Homo sapiens: one gene and its partners. The protein of the gene in region 4 purifies or fractionates together with the protein of the main gene of each other region. This does not show direct contact. Each region holds a gene or a part of one and is shown on either strand. Other genes may lie near its edges. The genes, in order: LOXL2, FAT1, FRAS1, PSG8, FREM2, CELSR2 and MGRN1.

Evidence for each region.
Region 1: the proteins of PSG8 (region 4) and LOXL2 purify together in Homo sapiens (affinity purification with mass spectrometry; 2 studies listed by BioGRID and IntAct, with this or other methods). This does not show direct contact.
Region 2: the proteins of PSG8 (region 4) and FAT1 purify together in Homo sapiens (affinity purification with mass spectrometry; 2 studies listed by BioGRID and IntAct, with this or other methods). This does not show direct contact.
Region 3: the proteins of PSG8 (region 4) and FRAS1 purify together in Homo sapiens (affinity purification with mass spectrometry; 2 studies listed by BioGRID and IntAct, with this or other methods). This does not show direct contact.
Region 5: the proteins of PSG8 (region 4) and FREM2 purify together in Homo sapiens (affinity purification with mass spectrometry; 2 studies listed by BioGRID and IntAct, with this or other methods). This does not show direct contact.
Region 6: the proteins of PSG8 (region 4) and CELSR2 purify together in Homo sapiens (affinity purification with mass spectrometry; 2 studies listed by BioGRID and IntAct, with this or other methods). This does not show direct contact.
Region 7: the proteins of PSG8 (region 4) and MGRN1 purify together in Homo sapiens (co-immunoprecipitation; 3 studies listed by BioGRID and IntAct, with this or other methods). This does not show direct contact.

What each region holds. Positions count from the first base shown.
Region 1 is NC_000008.11:23,394,121-23,397,620, reverse strand, and holds part of LOXL2 (lysyl oxidase homolog 2 precursor), read left to right. Parts: intron 1-3,500. UniProt on the Homo sapiens protein: Mediates the post-translational oxidative deamination of lysine residues on target proteins leading to the formation of deaminated lysine (allysine).
Region 2 is NC_000004.12:186,615,857-186,619,356, forward strand, and holds part of FAT1 (protocadherin Fat 1 isoform 1 precursor), read right to left. Parts: coding exon 1,852-3,500; intron 1,346-1,851; coding exon 1,149-1,345; intron 1-1,148.
Region 3 is NC_000004.12:78,539,823-78,543,322, forward strand, and holds part of FRAS1 (extracellular matrix organizing protein FRAS1 isoform 1 precursor), read left to right. Parts: intron 1-708; coding exon 709-1,302; 3' UTR 1,303-3,500. UniProt on the Homo sapiens protein: Involved in extracellular matrix organization. Required for the regulation of epidermal-basement membrane adhesion responsible for proper organogenesis during embryonic development. Involved in brain organization and function.
Region 4 is NC_000019.10:42,762,879-42,767,129, reverse strand, and holds the start of PSG8 (pregnancy-specific beta-1-glycoprotein 8 isoform a precursor), read left to right. Parts: upstream 1-1,451; 5' UTR 1,452-1,548; coding exon 1,549-1,612; intron 1,613-2,848; coding exon 2,849-3,214; intron 3,215-4,251.
Region 5 is NC_000013.11:38,690,077-38,693,576, reverse strand, and holds part of FREM2 (FRAS1-related extracellular matrix protein 2 precursor), read right to left. Parts: coding exon 1,060-3,500; intron 1-1,059. UniProt on the Homo sapiens protein: Extracellular matrix protein required for maintenance of the integrity of the skin epithelium and for maintenance of renal epithelia. Required for epidermal adhesion. Involved in the development of eyelids and the anterior segment of the eyeballs.
Region 6 is NC_000001.11:109,273,539-109,276,251, reverse strand, and holds the end of CELSR2 (cadherin EGF LAG seven-pass G-type receptor 2 precursor), read right to left. Parts: coding exon 2,582-2,713; intron 2,231-2,581; coding exon 2,203-2,230; 3' UTR 501-2,202; downstream 1-500. UniProt on the Homo sapiens protein: Receptor that may have an important role in cell/cell signaling during nervous system formation.
Region 7 is NC_000016.10:4,676,826-4,680,325, reverse strand, and holds part of MGRN1 (E3 ubiquitin-protein ligase MGRN1), read right to left. Parts: intron 2,864-3,500; coding exon 2,754-2,863; intron 295-2,753; coding exon 229-294; intron 1-228. UniProt on the Homo sapiens protein: E3 ubiquitin-protein ligase. Mediates monoubiquitination at multiple sites of TSG101 in the presence of UBE2D1, but not of UBE2G1, nor UBE2H. Plays a role in the regulation of endosome-to-lysosome trafficking.

The DNA of each region.
Region 1 (3,500 bases), on a different chromosome or scaffold from region 4:
ATTTTTAGTAGATACAGGGTTTCACCGTGTTAGCCAGGATGGTCTCGATCTCCTGACCTCGTGATCCACCCGCCTGGGCCTCCCAAAGTGCTGGGATTACAGGCGTGAGCCACTGTGCCTGGCCGGAAAAGCATATTTCTAAAGATGATTTCACCCACCCCAAGAATAGCATATCTAGGTAAAATCACATGATCCTAAGTATATACCCACATAGGCTTTTTGGGTTGCTTTTGTGTTTATTGTGGTAAAATATACGTAACATAAAACTCACCATCTTAACTATTTTCAAGTGTACAGTGCAGTGGCGTTAAGTGTGTTGACACTGCTGTGCTACCATCACCATCAGCCATCTCTGGTACTTTTGCATCTTCCAAAACAGAAACTCTGTACCCATTGAACACTAACTCCACTCTCCCCCTCCGACCAATCCCTGGCAGCCCCCATTCTACTTTCTGTCTCTGTGACTATGACTGAACTAGGTACTTCATATAAGTGGAATATATTATATTTGTCTTTTCGTGTCTGGCTCATTTTACTTAGCATGGCTTCCAGGTTTTTTCACGTTGTAACCTGTGTCAGAATTTCCTTCCTTGTTGAGCCTGAATAATATCCCACTGTATGGATAGACCACATTTGTTTATCTCCTCCTCCACTGGTGGACATGTGAGTTGTTTCCACCTTTTGGTGACTGGGAATAATGCTGCTGTGAACATTGGTGTACAAATGCCTGTTATGGATGAACTTTTACAAAGTGAACATGCCCTTGCTACTACATCAAGAATAGAACATTAGCAAGAATGCATGAATTTAAAGGCAAAGCAGGAGATTTCAAATACGTTTCATGCCCAAACATGGCTGCTTCAATTACACCTCAAGATCTTGGGACTGGATATTGATTTTCTCTACCATGAGGGGGTTTGGAAGAGATATTTGAAAGAACACAGTTAATAATCTGTGATTTGAAAGAGTCAGTTTATAATCACAGATTAGTTATGAGATTTAAGTAGCTCCTTTCCTTAAAACGTCTAGGGATGGGAGTACAACCTGTTGAGATTTGCAATTGTAGCTGTGTTAGGGTATCACCACTAGGATCATTCCAGGCTGCCCCTTGGCCATTGTAGGGTTCAAATCCACCTGGAGAACTCCTGCCTTTCTGGCAGCTTCTGCTGGAGCACAAGTCTAAGCCCATTCTTTGGCCGTATCCTGCCTGCCCTCCTCATTTCCTTCCTCCCTCCTTCCCTTCCCACCTGATCTCTCTCTCGTTTTTTTGTTTGTTTGTTTGTTTGTTTGTTTGTTTGTTTTTGAGACTGAGTTTTGCTCTTGTTGTCCAGGCTGTAATGCAATGGCACGATTTGGCTGACCGCAACCTCCACCTCCTGGGTTCAAGCGATTCTCTTGCCTCAGCCTCCCGAGTAGCTGGGATTACAGGCATGTGCCACCACACCCTGCTAATTTTGTATTTTTAGTAGAGACAGGGTTTCTCCATGTTGGTCAGGCTGCTCCCGAACTCCCGACCTCAGGATCCTGCCGCAGCCTCCCAAAGTGCTGGAATTACAGGTGTAAGCCACCGTGCCCAGACTTCTCTCTCTTCTTAAGTAGAACGATTTATCAGTGACTCTAAGAGTTTATGTGTGTATTTAGAAATAAGGCCAGGCACAGTGGCTCACACCTGTAATTCTAGTACTCTGGGAGGCCAAGGTTGGGGGATTGCCTGAGCTCGGGAGTTCGAGACCAGCCTGGGCAACAGGGTAAAACCCCATCTCTACTAAAATTACAAAAATTAGCCAGTCATGGTGGTGCACGCCTGTAATCCCAGCTACTCAGGAGGCTGAGGCGGAGGTTACGGTGAGCCAGGATTGTGCCACTGTGCTCCAGCCTGGGCGACAGAGTAAGACTCTGCCTCCAAAAATAATAAAATAATAATAATAAAGTCTTCAGTCAAGAGTAATATTTTGATGCCTGGCAACCACCCCCAGGCTGCCTGCATGACACTTTCAAGTGTCATCGAAGTAGATTCTTTTTTAAAAGACTTTATTGAGATATAATTTGCATATCATCCAATTCACCCATTAAAATGTACAAGTCAATGGATTTCAGTATATTCACAGATATGTGCAAATATCACCCCAGTCAACTTTAAAATGTTTTCATCAACACAAAGAGAAGTCCATATCCGTTAGCCACCACCGCCTATCCTCCCAGCCTTAAACAGCCACTAATCTAGTTTCTGTCTCTATATTGCCAATTTTGTATAATTTGTGTAAATAGAATCATATAATATGTGGTTTTTTTTTTTTTTTTTTGGTCTGGCTTTTTTCACTTCCCTTAATGGTTTTTTTGTTGTTGTTTCTTTGTTTTGTTTTGTTTTGAGACGGAATCTTGCTCTGTCACCAGGCTGGAGTGCAGTGGCGCCATCTCGGCTCACTGCAACCTCCGTCTCCCAGGTTCAAGCGATTCTCCTGCCTCATCCTCCCAAGTAGCTGGAACTACAGGCGTGCGCCACAATACCCAGCTAATTTTTGTATTTTTAGTAGAGACGGGGTTTCACCATGTTGGCCAGGATGGTCTCGATCTCTTGACCTCGTGATCCGCCCACCTTGGCCTCCCAAAGTGCTGGGATTACAGGCGGGAGCCACGGTGCTCCCCTAATGTTTTTAAGCCTCACCATGTGTCAGTATCTCGTTACTTTTTATGGCCGAATAATATTCTATTGTATGGGCATACCGTATTTTGTTAATCCATTTATAGTTGACAGACATTTGGGTTGTTTCCACCCTTTGAGTATTATGAATAATACTGCTATGAACATTCATGTAAAAGTTTTGTTTGAACACCTGTTTCAATGTGTTTCAATTTTGGGGGGGTATATACTTAGGAGGGGGGTTGCTGGGTCATATAGTAATTCTATGTTTAGCTTTTTGAGGAATCACCAAATTGTTTTTCACAGTGGCTGTAGTATTTTACATTTCCACTAGCAACGTATGAGGATTCTAATTTCTCCACATCTTTGGGGACACTTTTTATTTTCCCCTTAAGAAAATTCCAGCCACCTTTATGGGTATGAAGTGGTATCTCATGGTACTTTGTGTTTGCTTGATGACGAGTGATGTATCACACCTTTTTATGTGCTTGTAAGCCATTTGTATATCTTCTTTGGGGAAGTGTCTATTTAAGTTTTTGCCCATTTTTAATTGGGTTGGTTGTCTTTTTTTTTTTTTTTTTTTCTCTGAGACAGAGTCTCACTCTGTCACCTAGGCTATAGTGCAGTGGCACGATCTCGGCTCATTGCAACCTCCACCTCCCGAGTTCAAGCGATTCTCCTGCCTCAGCCTCCCGAGTAGCTGGGACTACAGGCACGCGCTACCGTATCTGACTAATTTTTGTATCTTTAGTAGAGACAAGGTTTCACCATGTTGGCCAGGCTGGTCTTGAACTCCTGACCTCAGGTGATCCGCCCACCTCGGCCTCCCAAAGTGCTAGGATTACAGGCATGAGCCACC
Region 2 (3,500 bases), on a different chromosome or scaffold from region 4:
CCCATCCAACATCTCGCCATCTCTCAATGTCTAAAAAACATGGTCAACTGTATGTCTCATTACTTTAGCAAACTGGAATTGGAACTCAACACGGAACTCCTCTAAAACCAGCCCCCGGCTCAGACTCCTCTTTGCCACGGCCTTGGTCGCTCCCCCTACTCATGTAGAAAGTCGGGCTCGATGGCATGCTGGCTGGCTGTCACACCAGATGGTCTTCCTCGGTGGTGGCTTTGGTCCTTTCACTCCTTCCCCACCTCTGCCTTTCCAGGGCCCCCTTGCATCCACTCCTCCCTGTCTAAATAATGGGCACGATGCTTCCAAACTAAGCTTAAGAACTCGTCTCATGTCATCTCTACCTTACCGATATAAAAGGCTCCAAAGTCCCTATTTTCTCTAGGATCGAGTTCAAATCCCTTGGAACGACCGCCACTGCCCACTGTAATCCAGTTCACCCTTTTCCAAGACTCTCAGTGCAGACTCCCCACTTCTGGCAAACTCAGTGGCTACTCCCACAATCCCTCCTCACACTCCATGGCCCCTCCCCACCCACTCCTGACGACCCACTTACTGCCCCCCGAAGCTGAGCCAGCCCTTTCTCTGGGCAGCCCTTCTCACCCTCTGGCCCCAGGGACCACCCCTGCTCGAGCCACATGCCCTCATCTAACCTTGGAGGGAGCAGCCCTTCCTACGTCTACTTTTAGTTCCCACTGAATGGTGAGCCGCGCAGATGCAGGAAGCACGCTGTCCACCTCTGAGCTTCTCCAGCGTGCAGAAGAGCAGATGCCCCCAAAACAGTGTCTCACGGCACGTCGGCACTTTGTTTCCCGTCAGATCCTTCCCCCAAAACAGCTGTATCCCCATATTAAGAGAATCCCCTCATGAAAAGGTTACAGAGCATTTTCAGTGTTGGATGCAACTGGAGTCCTGTCCGTAATTTAGTTTTCTAGAATGAGGCTTTTGATTTATTGAGCATTCCCGCAAATAGTTCTGAAGCTTTTCCAAGTCTTACCCCATTTAACACCTCTGCTTAATCAGTAAGTGATCATAAAACACATGTGAATTACACCACAGCGCCAAATGATGGTCCCATTGAAAGAATTAAGAAATTGAAATTCATAACACACAAATGTAAGGGAAGAGCTGCTTACCTTTTCACAAACTGGACTGTTGTCATTTGCATCCAGAACTTTCACTTCAACTATCGCTTTTGATGAGAAGGTGCCATCAGTTGCCGTGATAGTAAGAAGGTAATTGTCCCTTTTTTCCCTGTCTAGAGGTTTCTTCACATATACCTTCCATTCATTCTGTATAGTTTCAACGGCAAACTGTCCTAAAGGATCCCCTCCTATTAAATCAATGGAGGAAGATAATAATCAAATTTGTTGAAAGGATAAAAATAAGTAACAGAAAAAATAAACTGTACAAAAGATGTATAATGTTATAGTTTAAAAGAATTGAGTATTAAAAGAATTAATTTGGCATATATTAGCCTTCCAATTTACAAAAACAAGGGCAGCATTAAAATGCATAAACATAGCATTAAGACTACTAATCATTTAGCCTGCATTAAAACTATAGATGTTTTTAATTATATTTATTATACACTAAGTATAAGGTTCAAAAGAATGAGTCACAAAAATCAAAAACAGTCTAATGAAACAACTGGTAGCTTTGCTCAGGTAACAAGCTTGAAATGAGGCTCAACAGATGTTATTTCTACGTATTATTTTAGATATTTTTAACTAAAATCATCCCTTAAATCCCCAATTTCCATACAATACAGATCTTATACTTTATGCTTCTAAAAATCATTTTAAATTAATTAAACCGTTTGGTATGAATTTTTTTTACCTGTTATGAAATATGTAACTTGTCTGTTGATCTCTTCAGAATCAGCATCCGTGGTACTTAAGATGGCAATCACCCCACCTTGGGGGTCATCCTCACTCACAGTCCCTTTATAGATCTCGGCCGTGAATCGTGGTGGACTATCGTTGACATCGGTGACGGTAACATCCACAATGGCTGTGGAGGATAGCTGGATCTTTTCACCATGATCTGATGCAACCACTTTAATCTGGTAATTGTCTCTCTTTTCATGGTCAAGTTCCTTTAAAGTTGTAATCCAGCCTGTTTCCATGTTAATGGCAAAGGATTCAATGACTTCCACACTTTGTGACTGATCCAGGCTATACATAACTTGGCCGTTGGTTCCTGAGTCAGCATCAGATGCCCTGATCTGAATTACTCTACTTCCCCCTGGCAGGTTTTCAACAATGAATGCCTCATATGGACTAGATTCAAAGACCGGGCTGTTGTCATTTGCATCTTTCACTTGGATACTAACATCTACAGAAGCCACCATCTCATGGTCATCTTGAGTGCACCTGGCCAGTATGGAAAACTGATACCACTTAGTTGTCTCATGATCAAGACTCTTCTCCAACTTCAGTCTCCCGCTCTGTCTGTCAATCACAAAGGACTCATCCCTATTGCTTTCTGGAGTATTCCCTTTGACCAGGCTGTAAAGAACAGTCCCACTATGTTCTGCTCGGATGAGATCTATCTCTGTTCCAATAGGCACGTCCTCTGACACTGTAAAGGTATAGAAAGGTTCTGAAAATTTTGGAAGCTGCATTTCCGGTGGAAGGATTTTAACATAGACAAGAACAACAGATTCTTTTGATGGAGACCCATTATCCACAGCTCTAACAAAGAAAGTGAAGAATTCATTTTCCAAGCCAATGAGGCTCTCCTTTGTAGTGATTACGCCGGACAGTTTGTTAATTTCCAAATTCTCTTTTACACTTTCAGAGTCTGCTTCAATGGCATAGGTGATGTCGGCATTGGAGCCCTCATCGGCATCACTTGCAAGAACTTTAACGACTGAAGTCCCTTTAGCAGCACTGGACCCGATATTCACTTCGTATTTGGTTGCTCGAAATTGTGGTGCATTGTCATTGTCATCTGTAAGGATGACATTCACGGTGCAGAAAGCAACTTTTCCTCCAGCATCCTTAGCCATTAAACGGACTGAGATCACTTTCTCCGCCGGGGTTTCTCGATCAAGTTTTTCCAAAGTAAATATCTGTCCTCTCTCATTTATGTAAAATCTGTCTTTGGCAAAGTCATTTACAATATGGTAAGTAACGTGACCATAAATACCAGAATCCCCATCCGTAGTTTTCACCTCCATCACCAGGGTATGTAGGGGAGCGTTTTCAGCTAGTTCCACTTCATATTCGTTCTGAAGGAAAGCAGGACTGTGCAAATTGCCTCCAATTACAGTTACATGAACCTGGGTGGAACTTCTAAAAACTCCATCAGACACTGACAGGTTAAGACTGTAAAATGGCTTCAGGGCGTGCCGGTGCAGGTTTGAGAGGGTGATAATCCCTGTTGCACTGTCAATGACAAAATGTTTATGATCATTGCCAGACAGAATGGAATACTGCAACTTGTCTATGTCTGAACTGTCTGCATCATAGGCTTTTACACAG
Region 3 (3,500 bases), on a different chromosome or scaffold from region 4:
CAAGAATTACTATTTGATAAACACAAATACCTTAAGTCTTAGCAATGAACATGAACTTTCAAGATGAAATTTCACTTTTTTTGTCTCTAAATATTAATCTATGACCCTTCAGAACTATTATCATGCTTCAGAAGTTATTTCGAAACCATGAAGCATTTTAATGGAGGAAGATGAGGGGGAGATAAAATACTTGATGATATAGCCTGATTGAGAAGGTGTTTAGAAAATGTTTGTCACGTATCTGTGTATTATGCACAGAGTATATGTTTAGTGAATATTTTGTTGAATGACTCCATTTTCGCTGAAGTTCACCAATAAATAGTAAATTGGCATAACACATAATTGAAGGTCACTGTAAATAAATGTGGTTTTTAATGCTATTATTTCACTGCTATCAATAAAGACAGACAAATATAAGCATTCACTTAGCTAAAGAGACCATGAAAGATAATTTCTTAGGCTATTCCATGTACACATAGGGAAACAAAAAAGAATCCGAATAGCTGACTCAAGATCATCTTAATTTGGAAATAAAATAGAACCCATATCTGGTTCAGTTCTCTATGTATTAGTAGACACCAACCATTGCTAATGCTTTTCTGGAAATCAGTTATCTATCAAGGCATATAGTGGCAATTATCCTTCCATTTCCTTTCTTCAGAGGTGGTCTGTGGGCAACAACAACATGTTCGGTTTGTCCCCCTGCAGGTGGAAGCAGGACACCAGTGGTATCTCCAGGTCATCTACATCATTGGCCCTGACACCATCTCAGGGCCCCGGGTCCAGCGCTCTCTCACAGCTCCACTCAGACGCAACCGAAGGGACCTGGTAGAGCCCGATGGCCAGCTGATCCTTGATGATTCCCTCATCTATGACAATGAAGGAGACCAAGTCAAGAATGGCACCAATATGAAGTCCCTGAATCTGGAGATGCAAGAGTTGGCGGTAGCTGCGTCCCTGTCACAGACTGGGGCGTCCATTGGCAGTGCCCTGGCTGCAATCATGCTTCTACTTCTGGTGTTTTTGGTGGCTTGTTTTATCAACAGGAAATGCCAGAAACAGAGGAAGAAGAAGCCCGCAGAGGACATTTTGGAAGAATATCCTCTGAATACCAAGGTAGAAGTGCCCAAGAGGCACCCGGACCGGGTGGAGAAGAACGTGAATAGACACTACTGCACTGTGCGGAACGTCAACATCCTGAGTGAGCCTGAGGCGGCTTACACGTTCAAAGGTGCTAAAGTCAAAAGACTGAATCTAGAAGTCAGAGTTCACAACAATTTACAAGATGGAACAGAAGTTTAATGGAGGAGACCTATGTGTATTTTTTTCTAAAATCATTTTTATAAAATGGGGGGAAATACTGGTATTTTTATAATCTCGCAGATAAAAAAGGGAAAACTATAGCTTTGAGTGGCAGACAGCACACATCACATGCATCAACTCACAACTGAGCTACCTCATTCAGCAAAGAACCACTGAGAACCCCAGAGTATTACAGTTATTTCCGTAGATCCCTTTAATAGTGTCAACAACTGTACACAGCTCCTTCTGTAAGGCTGGTCTTAGAAAACAAGTACTTTAGTATCAGGACAGGAGTTGAACAATTAGGTTAGCAGATGGAGATGAGAGGACTGGGTAGAGTACCATGGCAGATCTCAGAGAGAAGAAGTAGGTACGGGCCTTTGGTTCCCTCCCCCAGCCCCAGCTTTCTCCTACAGGGCTTTTCCTGAGTCCCCAGACAGCAGAGTATGAACTGCTGACACCCAGATTCCATTAAAAATTCTGCTAATCGACACAACACATATATTTGCTCATGATTTCACTTGACAGCGTATGCTCCTTGGCCTCTAATTGTACTTTGCTTTTCCAGAGCCCTTTTTACCTGGGGATTTCAGTGTGCTTAAGTAAAATCCTCTGAAAACCACGGGAGCCTCTGCCTCCTCAGCCACAGAGAACTCCCTCCTACAAAGGGGGAGACTGAAACCCGAGTTAAGGAGGGGCCTGGCAGGCGTATCAGAGCACATTAGTGATGCCCTTCACCCCAGGGAGGTGTCTGTTCCCAACTAGTTTATGTGGCACTGAGACATCCATCCCTGACCAAGGATGCTGCGAAACAGGATCAATGTACTACGGCCTTTTAATTCAACATTGCCATAAATGCTTTAAAGAAAACCCACCACACTTTCCTCCTACTCCGGTCTTTGCCCGTTCCTGTAACAGACAATCCCATGTCCTAGGTATGGTTTTTTATTCTGTTAGTGCTTCGGGAAAGTAAGTGATTCATTTGAATAAGGCAAATTAGGAGAAAGCCCAGGTTGGGGTGAAATCAGACTTAACAGATACATGCTGGTTCTCCTTGCTGTGTGTGACACAGCAGACAGAGGCACTATTCCTGGTGCAGTATTTCAGGGATTTCTCTTTGAGGGGTTCTTTTCTGGTAGCTCAGGCAATTATTTTTACCATATCAGCACATGACAAGGCCATGAACACATGGCTCTAAAATAATTTAGTGTTCAAGTATCAGCTTAACTATTTTGTGTAGGCTACACACAGCTTGCTTTTGTTTCTCTTCTGTTTCTGCCTTATTGGCGGAAACATAAGCGTGCATGCCATGTTGTTTTGAATTGGAGGCACAATTTCATTATTCGAGAGTAAAAGACATGTCCTCTTCTGATGCATGGCACACCATAGTCACCAAGCAAATAACAGAGCCTTCACATTGTGTAATATTTGTATGAGAATGACTCAAGCTCTTTGAGAACATTCCAAACTAGTAACATTTCGCTACTAAAAGCTAGAAAGGATGAACTGTGAAAGGTTCTAGGCAGCTCTGTGAGACTCCAAGCTCCTTGAAAGTAGGACCTTTGTGAGCCACGCCTTTCATTCTTCAACAGTGCCTTGCATGTAACAAGCACTCCAGAAATGTTTGTTGAATGAATGAATGGTGTCATGGGTGAATGATGGGGAGTAAATTTAGGAAGGGGAAGTGAGAGAGTATGGTGGCAATATCACAAGGGAGGAGAGAGGAAAACAATTATCTTCTCTACTTGGATTATGAGATAACCTTTTCTTGGAGGAAAGAAACACCGCTTTACAAAGGCATGACTCTGGCGGTGGTCCTAAGGAAGCATGAGCAGAAAATTCATAAAAATGTATCATCAGCAGGAGATGAGACTATGAATTGGCATCCAGAACAGGAGATTTAGAGCAAAATCTAATTTAGCATTCTGAGATGAGTGTCAGGTTTTCAGGAGAGAATGAGTTGGGGTGAGCCCAGAGTCTGAAACTCCTGACTGGTCAGGTGCTACTTAAGACCAGCTTGGGCAATTCAGGGCAGAACTCCTGTATCAGCCTCATGGACACCCAGAATTGGTATCTCATGGCTGGAGAGCTGATCAGCCAGGCACAGAATCTCCAGAACAACCTAGAGAGTGAATGCTAATTTGTAGAGCGAACTTCCATTTGGCCCATTATTTGTAACTGTGTAACTGCTCCAAGTG
Region 4 (4,251 bases):
ATCCTCATCAACTCTTTCTGTCACTGCTCCCTAAATGCCCGCCCCTGCCCCATCTATCCTGTTCTCTGGGGCATCCCAGGCCAAGCCTAGCACTGACACAGAACAGCAGCTGCCTAAGGGCCCACAGCCTCCCCGGGAATCAGCCAGGCACCCTATGACCTGCCTGCCCGCTGCACCACGGGGTGCTCAGAGTGCGTGTGATGGTCACACACAGGCACCATCCGGGATGTGGCCACCTGCCCCAGCTGTCCCTTGGGAAGGCAGACCTCTCCTGTGCGCTTGCAGGGAGAAGCGGGATGTTATTGCTCTTTGCTCCCAGAACACAACTCACCCCCACACGCCCCCTCAGGTGTGAGCAAGGTCCCTCCAGACAGGCTCTCTGGCCACTGCCTGTTCCTCCTCTACACACAGCAGCTTGGCCAGGTCAAAACCCTCAGGACAGACCCCTGGGTATGTCGGCACATGGAGGGCTGAGCCCATCATGGCCACGGAGTAAGTCAAGATGAATCTCTCCAGCTCTGAACCCCTGCTCTGTCCCAGGCACACCCTCTTGCGTCTCAACGAGCCATCTCCCTTGGGGTTCCTGGGTGACTCCCCACTTCCTCCTGCACCACCACGGGGAAGGTGTGGTGACCACAGGACAATCAGCTGGGCAGAGAAGAGAGGACATCAAAGATGGTCAGGAAGAACATGAGAAACCCTGAGCTCCAGCTCAGTGGCCAGACCCCACGGAGTCACAGAGTGACCGAGAACTGTCCCTTTGACTATGGGACTCACAGCCCCCACTGAGCAACCAGCACAGGCCTCTCCTCCCAAGAGACATGAGAGATTCACCCTGCACACCTCCAGGAAGGACAGTTTCCTCTGGGACACCCAGGTCCTGAGTGTCCATCCTTGGAAGCTGCAGCCAAGCTAGACACGATTAGAGAAAGGAAGGGTCCCTCTCACCAGGCAACACACAGCTCACCCACAGCACAATGGGGTGTCACTGTGACAGGGACCTGGTGCAGCTCCAGCCTCCTGCACTGAAGGGGAGAGCCAGATGGGGATGAAAGAGGCCAAAGGGCATGAATGTGCACCCCGACCCAGAGCCATGGGGACAGCAGGAGGCTGAGGCCCAGGACTCTGCTTGCCCAACCTGCAGGGTATGTTTCTGACTGTGTAGGTCTGTGTGTGTCCTTCTGTGTGTGTGTGTGTGTGTGTGTGTGTGTGTGTGTGTGTGTGTGTGTGTGTGTGTGTCTGCACAAAGTGTGTGTTGAGGTTTGGTGAAAGAATCACTGCTGAAAAAGGCAGAGGCCTCCACAATTCCCAGGGACCTGAAACACAGACAAAAGGAAAAACAGGAGGGACAAGGAGGCAGGACTGAGAGAGGAGGGGACAGAGAGGTGTCCTGGGCCTGACCCCGCCCATGAACCTGAGAGGTGCTCCTGCCCCGGGAAGAAGCTCAGCGCAGAAGGAGGCAGGACAGCACTGCTGAGAGCTGTGCTCAGGAAGCTTCTGGATCCTAGGCTCATCTCCACAGAGGAGAACACACAGACAGCAGAGACCATGGGGCTCCTCTCAGCCCCTCCCTGCACACAGCGCATCACCTGGAAGGGGCTCCTGCTCACAGGTGAGGAGAGAACCTCCTGGGAGAGGACAGGAGGAGGAAGCAGAGTGACTGGATGGGGTCTCCTTGAGAGTATGGGGTACTAAAAAATGAAAGAAGCCAGCACTTTGGGAGGCTGAGGCAGGTGGATCATGAGATCAGGAGTTCAAGATCAGTCTGGCCAACACAGTGAAGCCCTGTCTCTACTAAAAATACAAAAATTTAACCAGATATTGTGGTGTGCTCCTCTAATCCTAGCTACTCGGGAGGCTGAGGCAGAAGAATCACGTGAACCCAGGAGGCAGAAGTTGCAGCTAGCTGAGATAGTGCCATCGCACGCCAGCCTGGGAGACAGTATGAGACTCCATCTCAAAAAAAAAAAAAGAGAAAAAAGAGAAAAAGGAAAGAAGGCTCTATTGGAGCCTGGATAGGGGGAAATACACCAGAGAGGGACAGGGGTCAAAACAGGAAAGTCACAGGAACCAGAATTGGTAAGAGGTAGGAAAATCTTGTGTTCTGTTTTCCTGATTAATCATCAGGGGCCACCACATTTTGAAATATGATAATAATAACTGTATCAGATGACACTTCACATAAAAATATACACAGGGCATGAAACACTGTCCTCAGCAAGAAACCTCAACAATTGGGGGGAAAAAAAAACACCAAGGGCGTGGAGGGCCCTGAGAACTCTCACATCTACAGGAGTCTGCAGCCTGTTCTGGGCACTGGGGTGCAACCAAGATCACAAAAATCCCTGTCCTCATGGAGCTCACGCTGTCATGGAGGGGAAGACAGACATGCAAAGAGATCTAGAATGTAAGGTCAGGTGTTGAGAAGAACCCTGGAGGGAGCAGAGCAGGGAAAGGTCAGAAAGGGAAGACCCAGGGTATCTGAAGGAGGTGTCAGGAAAGAAATCTAAGGATGCCCTGATGTGAGCAGGACCTGAGGGCAGTGTGGAGGGGGCCATGCGGACCCCTGGGGAAGAGGATTGCAAACAGAAAAATGCCAAGGTCAGAAGTGTTGAAGGAATGGGGGTCATGGGGCTGACCTTGACCTAGTAGGATAGTAGGACACACACACATACACACACACAGACACACATGCCGCTTTTGTGTGTGTGTGTGCGTGTGTTTGTATGTGTGTGTGTCTGTGTCTTCAAGGCTGAGGACTGAAGAGAACTTCTCAGGACCCAGGGCCCCATGTTTTCACACCAATACATAGCTCTCAATATTGACTGATGCTCTCTCCACCTCCTAGCATCACTTTTAAACTTCTGGAACCCACCCACGACTGCCCAAGTCACGATTGAAGCCCAGCCAACCAAAGTTTCTGAGGGGAAGGATGTTCTTCTACTTGTCCACAATTTGCCCCAGAATCTTACTGGCTACATCTGGTACAAAGGGCAAATCAGGGACCTCTACCATTACATTACATCATATGTAGTAGACGGTCAAATAATTATATATGGGCCTGCATACAGTGGACGAGAAACAATATATTCCAATGCATCCCTGCTGATCCAGAATGTCACCCAGGAAGACGCAGGATCCTACACCTTACACATCATAATGGGAGGTGATGAGAATAGAGGAGTAACTGGACATTTCACCTTCACCTTATATCGTGAGTGATTCCACATGATCCCTGGGTGTTGGGGGACAGGGGTCACTTCTACTTCACACACACAGGATTGTCAGGCCTGGACATTGCCTGTGTCCCTCTCTGCATTATGTCCCATGCTGGGGTTTGGGCATTTAGTGCAGGACACACACAGAGGAGACAAATTTCAACAGATCAGAATTCCTTTCCCGCATCCAGACCCTGCAGACACTCGCTGCAGAGGAAGGACAGTCTGATGGGGGGACTCAGCAGGAGGAGATCAGTCTCAGACAAGCACCTCATGCCCTCTTCATAAATTTGACCCTGAGAAAGACCCTGGAGAACTGAGTAGGGCTTGGCCTGAGGAGCCCCTGAGATACTCTCAGAGAAGCTCAGCCCTAGAAGCCTCACCCCCAGAACAGTGTCCCTAAATCCTTGCTCCAGATAAATCTGAGGAGCCTGTGCTGGGGCTGGGTTGTGGCTTCTTGGGCAGGGCTTACTGGGACCGAGGATTTACCAGCTGTCAGAGGACTGTGTCTCCTGGAGCTGTTCACCAGCCAGGGCTCAGCCCTCAGAGCCTCATCTGGGCAAGGACAGAGTTTTCTTCACCTGACACTCAGAGTGGAGAGGACAGAAAGACAAGCTTTGTAGGCCATCAGACAACTGCCTTAGGAGGCTTAGGCCAGTCCATAGAAAGTCTAATGTCCCCAGAAGCAGAAACACAAGAGAGAAGATGTACCTGGTAGCAGCTTGCCCACAGGGATCTGACGCAAAGGGGCTTTCTCATGGAAGCAAATTAATAATAAATGCTATTTGTGTGAAACCTCCACTGTGCCAAGCATTAGGTCAGGTGACTGTGAATCATTTAACATTTATTCACAGATAGCATGAAAAGCCACTGTCCATTTGCCATTTAGCTTATCTGATTGACAGAAAACTGAGGTACAGGAAGACACAGTCCCTGAGCCAGAGTCACACAATCACAAAGGGGAGATCAGGGTCACATGAGGTGTGTCCGCAGCCACAGGCTCATCCTCTCCTCCACCAGAAGTGAGGGCTCA
Region 5 (3,500 bases), on a different chromosome or scaffold from region 4:
CCAAATCCCACTGTAATGAAAGTTGCATGTTCTGCAGAACGGAGCCCTGACTCCCAAGCCAGTATAGTGAATGGGCTTCTCCCTTCCCTCACTAAATAACTCTGCATAGGACACTTGTCCTTTCTGCCTCAGATTGTGTCCACCCACAAAGGAAATTCAGGTTAGAAAAATCCTGTTGCCTAAAGACCGCAGGTGCCTGAAGCAACTGTTTTTTGTCACTGTGTTTGCAACAGGTCAGAGAGGAGGTTCACAATGATGAAATAATTTCCCCCTTCTAATATTAAGCTTGTCTACTTATCTTCATGCTCTTAATAATGAATTAGATGTATATTTTGGTGATGAACATATTGTTATTTTACACATCTTTAAGTATACTTTCCTTTTTCATGTATATCCTAGTAGCATGCCCTGTAAATATCATTGTTATAACTCTAGATAGGTGTTTATCAATTACGTCTCTGGATGAGTATTTGCCTGTCATGAAATATTATTAACAATTTTAAAAATCAACAAAGTAAATAAATGTAAACAAATCTTTTAGTTACAAAGTTCCTAACAACTATAACCGTGTCAGAGCAATGCTCTTAAAATTTATTCAAAGTAACCTAAGTTTGAAGGCTTTTTTGGAATGGTAATTGATAATGACAGCAATGTGAATAAACAGTATTTAGAAAGCACATCCTTCATTAAGGTGCCAAAATGCTTCATGAACCACCTGCAGCATACAACACAGAGGATGCGTTGGATAGGTATGGCAAATGGAGCAGAATTGGAAAGCCTGCTTCGATTTTAATTCACCAAAGTTCACCTCCTGCTTCGGCAGCCTATCCTTGCCACTTTCAAAATACATCAGTACTCCCTCTAATGAAGGCCACTGAGATGGGAGGTAGGACAAGAAGGGAGCTGTCCTCCTAGGAAAGTGAGTCCCTATATTCTCCCCATCCCCTTTGTTTCCTTTCCTTCTCTTGGACTCTAATTTAATGCTCTGTTTGTGAGGCTTTTAGTGAAGCCACATTCTCAGGAAACAAGGATAACCAAGAAAAGAAACATGAAACATACCTTGTGTGAACTGAGTGATGCTGTGGTTGCCTTTGTCCAGGTTGAGAAGATATCCATGTTGAGGGGCCTCTGTCACGATAAATCTAAGAGAAATGTGTAAGCTGTCTCTGTCCTCCACTTTCAATATTTTGCTTGTGATCATGAACCCCAAGTGGCCAGTGGCTAGAGTGCGAAGTGTAGAGGCCCCCTTATTCACTGCGATTTGGGGGACACTGTTGTCAACAGCCAAGACCTGGATCTTCATCACTTGGGGTCTCCTTGTTTCAAACACCGTATCAGGAAAAACATAGAAGTCTGTATGGGTGCCATCAGTCACTGTGAAGGAGAAGCTATCTTCACTTGACTCAGTGCCATCATGTTTGTAGCTGATTAAGTTTTCATTCAAGTCTTGCTTGGTAAAAACCATGACAGGTCTGGTATTGTTGAATAGGAGATGGCCATGAATAGGCACCTGGGTGATAGTGAATTTCAGGAGCTTGTCAGGAGTATCTCTGTCTTCGACAGTGAGCTCAAAAGGAGTAATCAGCTTGTTTTCACTTTCACTGACAACCAGCTTGTGGATGGTGACCACTGGCTTTTTATTGTCCACATCGCTAATGGAGATACGGAATGTCCGAAAGACAGGGTTACGTCCATCGGTGACTTGAAACTCAAAACTGTCCATTTTCACTTCATCATCAGCTGTGTGGATGTAGTAGATTTTGTTTCCAGCCAGTTGCAGCTGAGTGAAAGACGTGATGGACACACCAGGCTGATCCGTGCATTCCAGGTGACCTCGCATGGGAGCCCTGGTGATGGTAAAAACCAAGTTTTCATCAGGACTGTTCAAGTCACTAGTGCTTAGTAGGTCTGTTGTAAGAGTGACTTTGCCACCTTCTTTCAAGGACACTCCCTTACTTATCACATCAGGGAAGACAATGTCAATGCTCCCGATGGACACATAAAAGTAACGATCTATGAGGGGATTTATTCCATCAGTCACATCAAATTTAATTAGGTCCCGAATGCCCTCTTGCCCCAAATGGACATACTGAATTAAGTTTCTGTCTACTTCATCCTGGGTAAAATTCATGCCCAGTGTGATATTTTCAAAGGCACCAGTAGGTTTTCGTCTCTGTAATAAGCCATGTCCTGGCCCATAACGAATAATATAAACCAAAGATTTGTCTTCTGAATCTAAATCTGTTGCCATTAATATTTTGTTGTTGATAATCTTGGTATCCCCAATTTCTATTTCTAGTCCATTATTGATAGTCATTCTGGGCGTCTCATCATCAACAGGGATAACTATAATGAGGACCGTCTTTTCCACAGAGTGCTTCCCATCTGTTAGTTTAATCACAAAACTGTCTTCCTGGGTCTCGGAGTCATCATGCTCATAAATAATGCTGGAACTCTCTATGATCTGATCCAAGGTGAAGCTTTCGACCAAAACCGTGCCATTTATCAGCTGATTCATGATGTGACCATGAGTGGGGAATTGGGTAATAGTGAAAGTTAAATCATCCAGGGGAACATCAGCATCAGCAGCATTGAGAATGGGTGTATCAATTACCAGACTCATGCCTTCCATCACCATAAATTCTCTCATAAACATCTCTGGCTGTTCATCATTGGTGGGAATGATTACAATGGGGAAGAACTGTCTCTCTGAAAAGTTAATGCCATCAGAACAACGAAATACAAATCGGTCCTCCACAGGTTCCACCCCTTTATGGACACTCTGGACATAGTTTATGTGGCCCTGCCTGAGATCTTTCAAGTTGAAAGCACTTATGGCAATCCCTGCTCTTGATTTCTCAGAGCCTGGTGCTGGAGAAATGTTTTCAACATAACCTGAAGTAGGCTGAATAACTATAGTGCACAAGATGTCATCATTCAGGGAGTCGACATCTTCAGCACTTATATGCACTGATGTTATAACACTTTTATCACCTTCCATTACTATCAACTGTTCACCTACAAAGATTTCTGGGGCCTGGCTATCAACAGGCAGGATGGTCACCCATATAGTAACTCCTTGGATAGTATTGCCACCAATTCTCCATTCTTGAGACATATCTGACAGACTCAGGTTAAAAGAATCCGCTTTAGGCAATAGGCCTATCTCACCACTGGTGTGGGTATATACAACAGAGCCCTCCAAGATGTCCCTTTGAGTAAACTGCTCTGCTGGAATGCCATTGACCAAGATTTCCCCATACAAAGGTGGATCTTCCAAGAGGAAAGTCAACATCAAGTCATCAGTTTCCTCATTGGTCCCCTTAATAACATTGGCAGTGATTTCAGTAGCCCCATTTTCTAAGACATCTAGATAGGACTCCAGAGTGCCAGTAGGATGGCTCAGTATGGGCACTTCATCATCCACTGGCCGGACATTTACTCTGAGAGTGATGGGCACCACATGATGTCTGTCACTGACTTCCAAGGAGCAGCTATCA
Region 6 (2,713 bases), on a different chromosome or scaffold from region 4:
TAGCTGCTTCATTTTCCAATGGGAAAAAAAAAACAAAAAACAACCCTGAGCAGTATAGTTAGGAGGCACTGAGTCACTGACCACCATTCAATTCCAACCAGCCTCTCAATGCAGCCCTCCCTGCTTCTTGAATTCTGCCCCAGAAAACTCATCCCTGTCTAGGACTCAGCCCTGAGGGGCTGGGCTGGAAGGCTGCCTGCCCCGTGCAGCCTCTCCCACCGTAGAAGTCCTTTCCGTCCTGGTGAAAAGGACACCTTCCTGCCCGCCCACCATGTCTTCCTTGGAAATGCCAGGAAATGGGCTCTGTGCTGATCCAGCTATTTGGGAGCAGTGTCATGGACATGGGCAGAGGGACAGGCTTATCAGCCAGTGGTGTCTGAGTCTCCCGACCTCCCGGTGGGGCCTTCTGGGCCCTGCCGGCTCTTCTGTTTTCCAGAGACCAGACCTTCCTCCCTGTGGGAGGACAGGGTACCACACAGAAGCGGACAGTGACAGTGCTGTACCCGCACAGAACTAGTTTATTCAGTAGTATGGGGCATGAAAAAACAACAACAACAAAACGCTACCCTATTTACAGCAACAACCAAACTGTACAATCTGATGGTTAGTACCAAGTTAGCATCCAGCATCTTTGTATTTTTTTTAAATCAAGTCATCAGTAGTAAAAACCAGTTAAATTTTTAACCCTTTGCAGGAATTGCTGAGGGGAGAAGACGGGGGAGAATCCACGGCAGAAAAGCCAGAGGCTGGCCTCACAAATGAGAAACAGGAGCCTTTCTTTCCTGCCCACAGCCTCTTTTTCTAGCCACCTGCTCCAGAAGGAAAGTCAGTGACAAGTCTGGAATACATGCTTGGAGTAAATGGTGACTCAGATGAAAAGCAGTCGGCAAAACTGAGGAGAGGGGAGGAGAGGTGGGGAGATGATGGCCTGGGGCAAGGGGAAGGGCGTCAAGCCCCCAAGCCAGGGCTGCTGGGAACACCCAGCCTGTGATGGCCATATCAGACCCCCGGGACTGGACACGAACCCATCCCAACACAAAAAGCAAATAAATAAAACAAATATATTAACTCTCTCTTCACAGGGAGCTGGGGTGGAGTCGGGGAGAAAGAGGAACAGGACCTGGTCCTTTGAAGAAGAGAGCCAATTCCAAGAAGGGGTTAAAAATAGAACATGTCTCAGAGGCCACAGCAGGTTAGACAAAGTAGCATTTGTCTGATTTTGGGGGGTGGGGTGGGTGAGTGGACACCAGAACCCAGACTTGAAACCTGTGCTTGATTGAGCACCCTCAGGGCAGCCGAGCCAGCACTGTGTTTACTCTTCCTCCCCCACCCACATCACAGCAAAGAAGCGCAACTTAACACATGACTGGCCTGCCCGGGGCGCGGGGCGGGCACGAAAAATGAAGCACTTTTGGGTCAGCAACTGAGCAAACACCTGGGCTGCCGCGCACGGCCAGAGTCCAGGAAAAGGAGAGGGGCTGGGGCTGCCCGACCCCCGCCTGGGGGCACAGGCTCCCCTGAAAATGTGTTCATGCAGCATTTGGGGGTCCAGGGGCGCTGAGTCCTTCTGCCCCCTCACCGGACAGGGCTTTTCCAGTTCCTGGGAGAGGCAGTGCGGGCAGGACGAGGCACACCCTTTGCCCTGGCCCCTCACCGTTCTGAGGCCTGCCCGGGTGCAGCCTGAAGGGTGTGAAGCCCTGGCTGCGTGTGGCTTTGTCCTTTCCTTTTGGTGATGGCGTATGAGGGGCAGGCCCCCCAGGAGTCCCTCTCCTCCCAGAGGCACAGCAGATGGGAAACTGAGGAGAGGCTGGGAAGCATCCTGGGAGGTCCTATCCTCTTTGGGAAGGGAAAGGGGAGTCAATTTCCAGCGTATAAAAAAAATGAATCCCTGAAGTCATGAAGAGTGGAGATCCTTTTTTAAATTCTTTTTTTCCTCTTTTCTGAAAAACTTTGTCTTGGAGATGTTGGCCCCAGGGGTCCAAAGTGCAGTGAGGGGAATGGTGGGGGGGGAGTTGGCACTAGATGGCCTTAGGTGGGGTGAGTACCCCTCCCGGCAAGGCCCAGGCTCCTCAGATGGACGTTTCGTCGCTGCTGCGGGCAGGCGATGGGGAGCGGGGCAGGATAAAGCACAAGACAGGAGCAGGGCATGAGTGCGGCTGGGGAAGGGAAGGGAGCCTCGGGCGTAGGAACCACGGCCCAGGGTTAATGCAGGAAGTTAAAGAAGAGAAATCTGGAGAGGCAGGAAAGGAAAGTGGCAGAAAAGGCAGACAGAGGGTTAGTTGAAACAGAGGAGAGAGTGAAAGCTTTCACCAGACGAAGGAAACAGGAAAGCACCCCCAGCTCCCCATCCTCCCGCACTCTGCCCTAGGCTGGGCTGCGCCGCGTAGAGCCTAGGAGGGGTGGCCCTCCCCGCAAGGCACCATGGTTTGTGGGCACGGCATAGTAAGGGAGCTGGGCCAGTTCTGCCCATTTGTCCTCCAAATGCCATCCAGAGTCACCTGGGGAGGCCCGGAGGCAGCTCTGGGCCCAGGTGAGGCCTCCGAGGGGCTGCACCCCGTCCCGCCCACCCGGCCACACTCACTCGGAGCCTGACGAGTCCTCATCCACCGTGCCTGCCTTGATGCTCATGGCGATGGGCATGACCCCGTTCAGCTGCTCCTGGAGGCTCTGCCGGGGCGGTGGGCGGGGAGGGGGGCCTCCCCGGCTGCCCTCA
Region 7 (3,500 bases), on a different chromosome or scaffold from region 4:
GCTGAGGGGAGGGCGGCGGGGCCAGCGCACCTGGCGTTTCGCCCACGGACCGAGAGCTTTTCCGGTTCCACAAACTCCCTGGGCAGGGAGGCCGGGACTGGGCAAGTGGAGCTGACGGGTTATATGAATCAGACACTAGCCTGGGGCGGAAACGATCTCCCCTACTTGTCGTGGGTTTAAAAATGAGGGCGGGGGCAAAAAAACGTAGCCGGAGGACCAGACACTTACTGTTTCCCTTTTAGGTTTCTTGCTGGCCAGGGAGGCGGGGTGCGGCTTTGATTTTTTAAAGGGACACTGTCAAGATAAAAATCATATGTTTTACAACTACCACCCCCACGCGGCCCTGGAGTGGGCTGGACAGGTCTGACTGGCTGTCCTCTTGCCACACCGTGGCGCAGAACTTCACAAGCTTCCGGGGGACGTGAATCTCGGGACTGTCCTAAGTGAGGGTTGACTCGGGTCTGGGTGGGCCATGTGTGCGTCTCGGCAGCTCCCGGGAGCTGTGCTGCTGCAGTGGGGAGGCTGTGGAGCCCAATCTCATCCCCATTGCCTGTCCCCCCGCAGTCTGGGTCACCTGGGGCAACAGATTTGGCCAAGGTGGACGTGAGGGCAGCTGAACGCTGCCTAATGCAGGCTGGGTGCAGGGTGGAGATCCTGAAGCCACACTGGTCAAAGTCCCCCAGCCAGCCGGTGCCCAGGCACCGCCGCTCACTTATCACCAACCATGAACCCCTCAAGAGGGCTGGGGAGAAGAGTCAGCCCCAGACCCACCCACCCCACCATCATCTTTAGGCACTCGCTGGAGAGAACACCCACGGTGGCTCTTTCTGTCACTACGTGGAAGGGGCTCCAACAGGAACCTGGCAGGTGAGGAGGAGCGTTTGCTTTTGCTCCATGCAGAGAGGACGGCGGCTCCCTGGCTGGGTGCCAGCCCTTCTGGGGCATGTGGAGGTCAGAGCTGCCTGGTCACACCTCGGACCCCGGCCGCCCAGCTCACTCAGCATAAGAGGGACAAACATGGAGGGACCTACTGGATCCTCAGCCACCAGAACACAAACAGGGAGGGGCAAAAACAAGGGACAATAAACCTAGCCACGCCTGAGCATCGATCACTCCCTAGGTGAAACCCTCTCAGAGGCAAATCCCTCAGGGGCTGCTTCTCTCTCCACCAAAAACCTGAGCACACGCAGCGTTTCCGAATCAAAGCCAACATCAAAAGTGCTGGAGAGCGTGGTGCCAGGAGCCCCACGATGGTAGGGGCCTAGAGGGCCTGGGTTGACAGGGACCCCCAAGCCATGTTTCTCCTCTAGCATCAAGACCATGTCAGATTTTAAAAGACAAACCCAAAATCTGGGTTTTAAGGGAAATTCCAGACTTTTAAACATTGACCCCATTTCAGAAACATTGCACCTGCTGCCAGGGAGGCCCATAGGGCCCAGGTCAAGGCCCTGATCAAGGGGGCTTGGGAGGAGCCTTCTAGAGCAAAGGCGCTGTCTGTGAACGCCAGTCCTCAGGGCTCTGCTCCTCTTTTCTGTTTAGAGAGGCAGCAGAGCCTGGAAGAACCAACGGCTCATAACAGCCACAGCTAAGAGCCAAGAAAGGCACTCAATCTGACAATGCGCGTGGCCAGTGGGGAGCAGGGGGCCTAAGACCCGGGCCCAACCAGTCACTGTCCAACTCCCCCATTCTGCTCCCTGCCCACCACAGCCCCTGCCACCCATCCCCATCTCTGTCTCTCCCTGTGTCTCTCCACATCTCTCTCACCCTGTCTCTCCACATCTGTCTCTCCGTCTCTCCACATCTGTCTGTCTCTTCCTATCTCTCCATCAGTCTCTCCCTATGTCTCTCCACATCTTTCTCTGTCTCTCCCTTTGTCTCTCCACATCTCTCTCATCCTGTCTCTGTGTCTCTCCACATTTGTCTCTGCCTCTCCCTGTGTCTCTCCACCTCTCTCTCGCCCTGTCTCTGTGTTTCTCTGTGCATCTCTCTCCATGTCTCTGTCTGTCTTTGGGTCCTTGAAGCCAGGGTTCCACCTCCCTTGTGTTGCTGAAGCAGGGCCTGCCCTTAAGGTCCCCACTGAGGGCGCCTGGTGGGCCTGGAGCGTGGGAGGAGGGTCACCAGTGCCCCTTGCACAGCAGCGCATGGGGGAAACAGCATGGCTCATTCACTAAGAACCACGGGGTGGAGGCGGTGGCTCAGGCCTGTAATCCCAGCACTGTGGGAGGCTGAGGCAGGACTAGCACTTGAGCCCAAGAGTTCGAGACCAGCCTGGGCAACATGGGAAACCCCACCTTACTAAAAATACAAAACATTAGCTCGGCGTGGTGGTACACGCCCGTGGTCACAGCGTCTTGGGAGGCTGAAATGGGGGAATTGCTTGAGGCGGGAGGTCGAGGCTGCAGTGAGCTGACATTGCACCACTTTGGGTGCACACCAGCCTCGGTGACAGACCGAGACCCTGCCTCAAAAAGAAAAAAAAAAAAAAAAAAGCACCTGGCTCCACCGAGACCTCGACCGCGCTCAGCCTTGTCGCAGGCTCTGGTACTGATGGCAGCAGCGCTGTTCCCAGCAGCGGCACCCCAGGGCCCAGCCTGGCCACCCCCTTCATGCCTCACAGCCATCCATGGGGGCCATGCCTGCCCACTGGACAGAAGAGAACACGGGGCTGCTGGCTGGACCGTCTGGGCCTTGCGCCTGGCCCAGGCACTCATGCCCCTCTCCCGCCCATCCCGCAGGCAGGAGGCGGCACTTACAGAGTGCTCATCATGCTCCAGGCTCTGGGCCAGGACGGGGCTGAAGGACACGGGGGACAGGGCTCCTGGCTTCTTCCGCACCGCCCGGATCTGCAGGAGGGCCCGGAAAGCTGCGGCAGAAGGAGGGCTCAGATCAGGCCCAGGCGACACACCCAGCCCCGAGGGGACCCTCCCAGCCCCAGGGATCAACACCCCCCCCACACCATAGGGGTCCTGGGGTGACCCCGCTTCCAGATCACAACGGTCTTTTTTTTTTCTTTTAGTTTTAAGGAGCAGGAATTTAATAGGCAGGAAAGATGGGGGAAGAAAGAAAGAAGCAGCTCCCCTGTACAGAAATAGAGGGAGGGGGCGCTCCAAAGACGAGAGACAGAACTCCCGCAAACACAGTATTAATGAAATGGCCCCGGGCAGGAAACACAGCAAGGCCATGCAGTGCTGCCCAAGGCGGGGCTCCAGAGGGTGTTTCCAAGAGGCTGGTGGCCATGACCCCCAAAGCGTCACACCCCTGAAGCTCCAGGCTGCACCCGAGACAGGACGTGACTGCAAATCAGCAGTCCTGGCTGAGCCCAGAGGAGCTCTTGGCTGCAGGACAGGATGGCAGGCGGGGACATCACACTGGGGAAGCTGAGGTGGGGATGTCATGCTGTGGAAACTGAGACAAGGACATCATGCTGAGGAAGCTGAAGTGGGGAGTCACGCTGGGGAAACTGAGGCAAAAACATCACGCTGGGGAAGCTGAGGGGCACA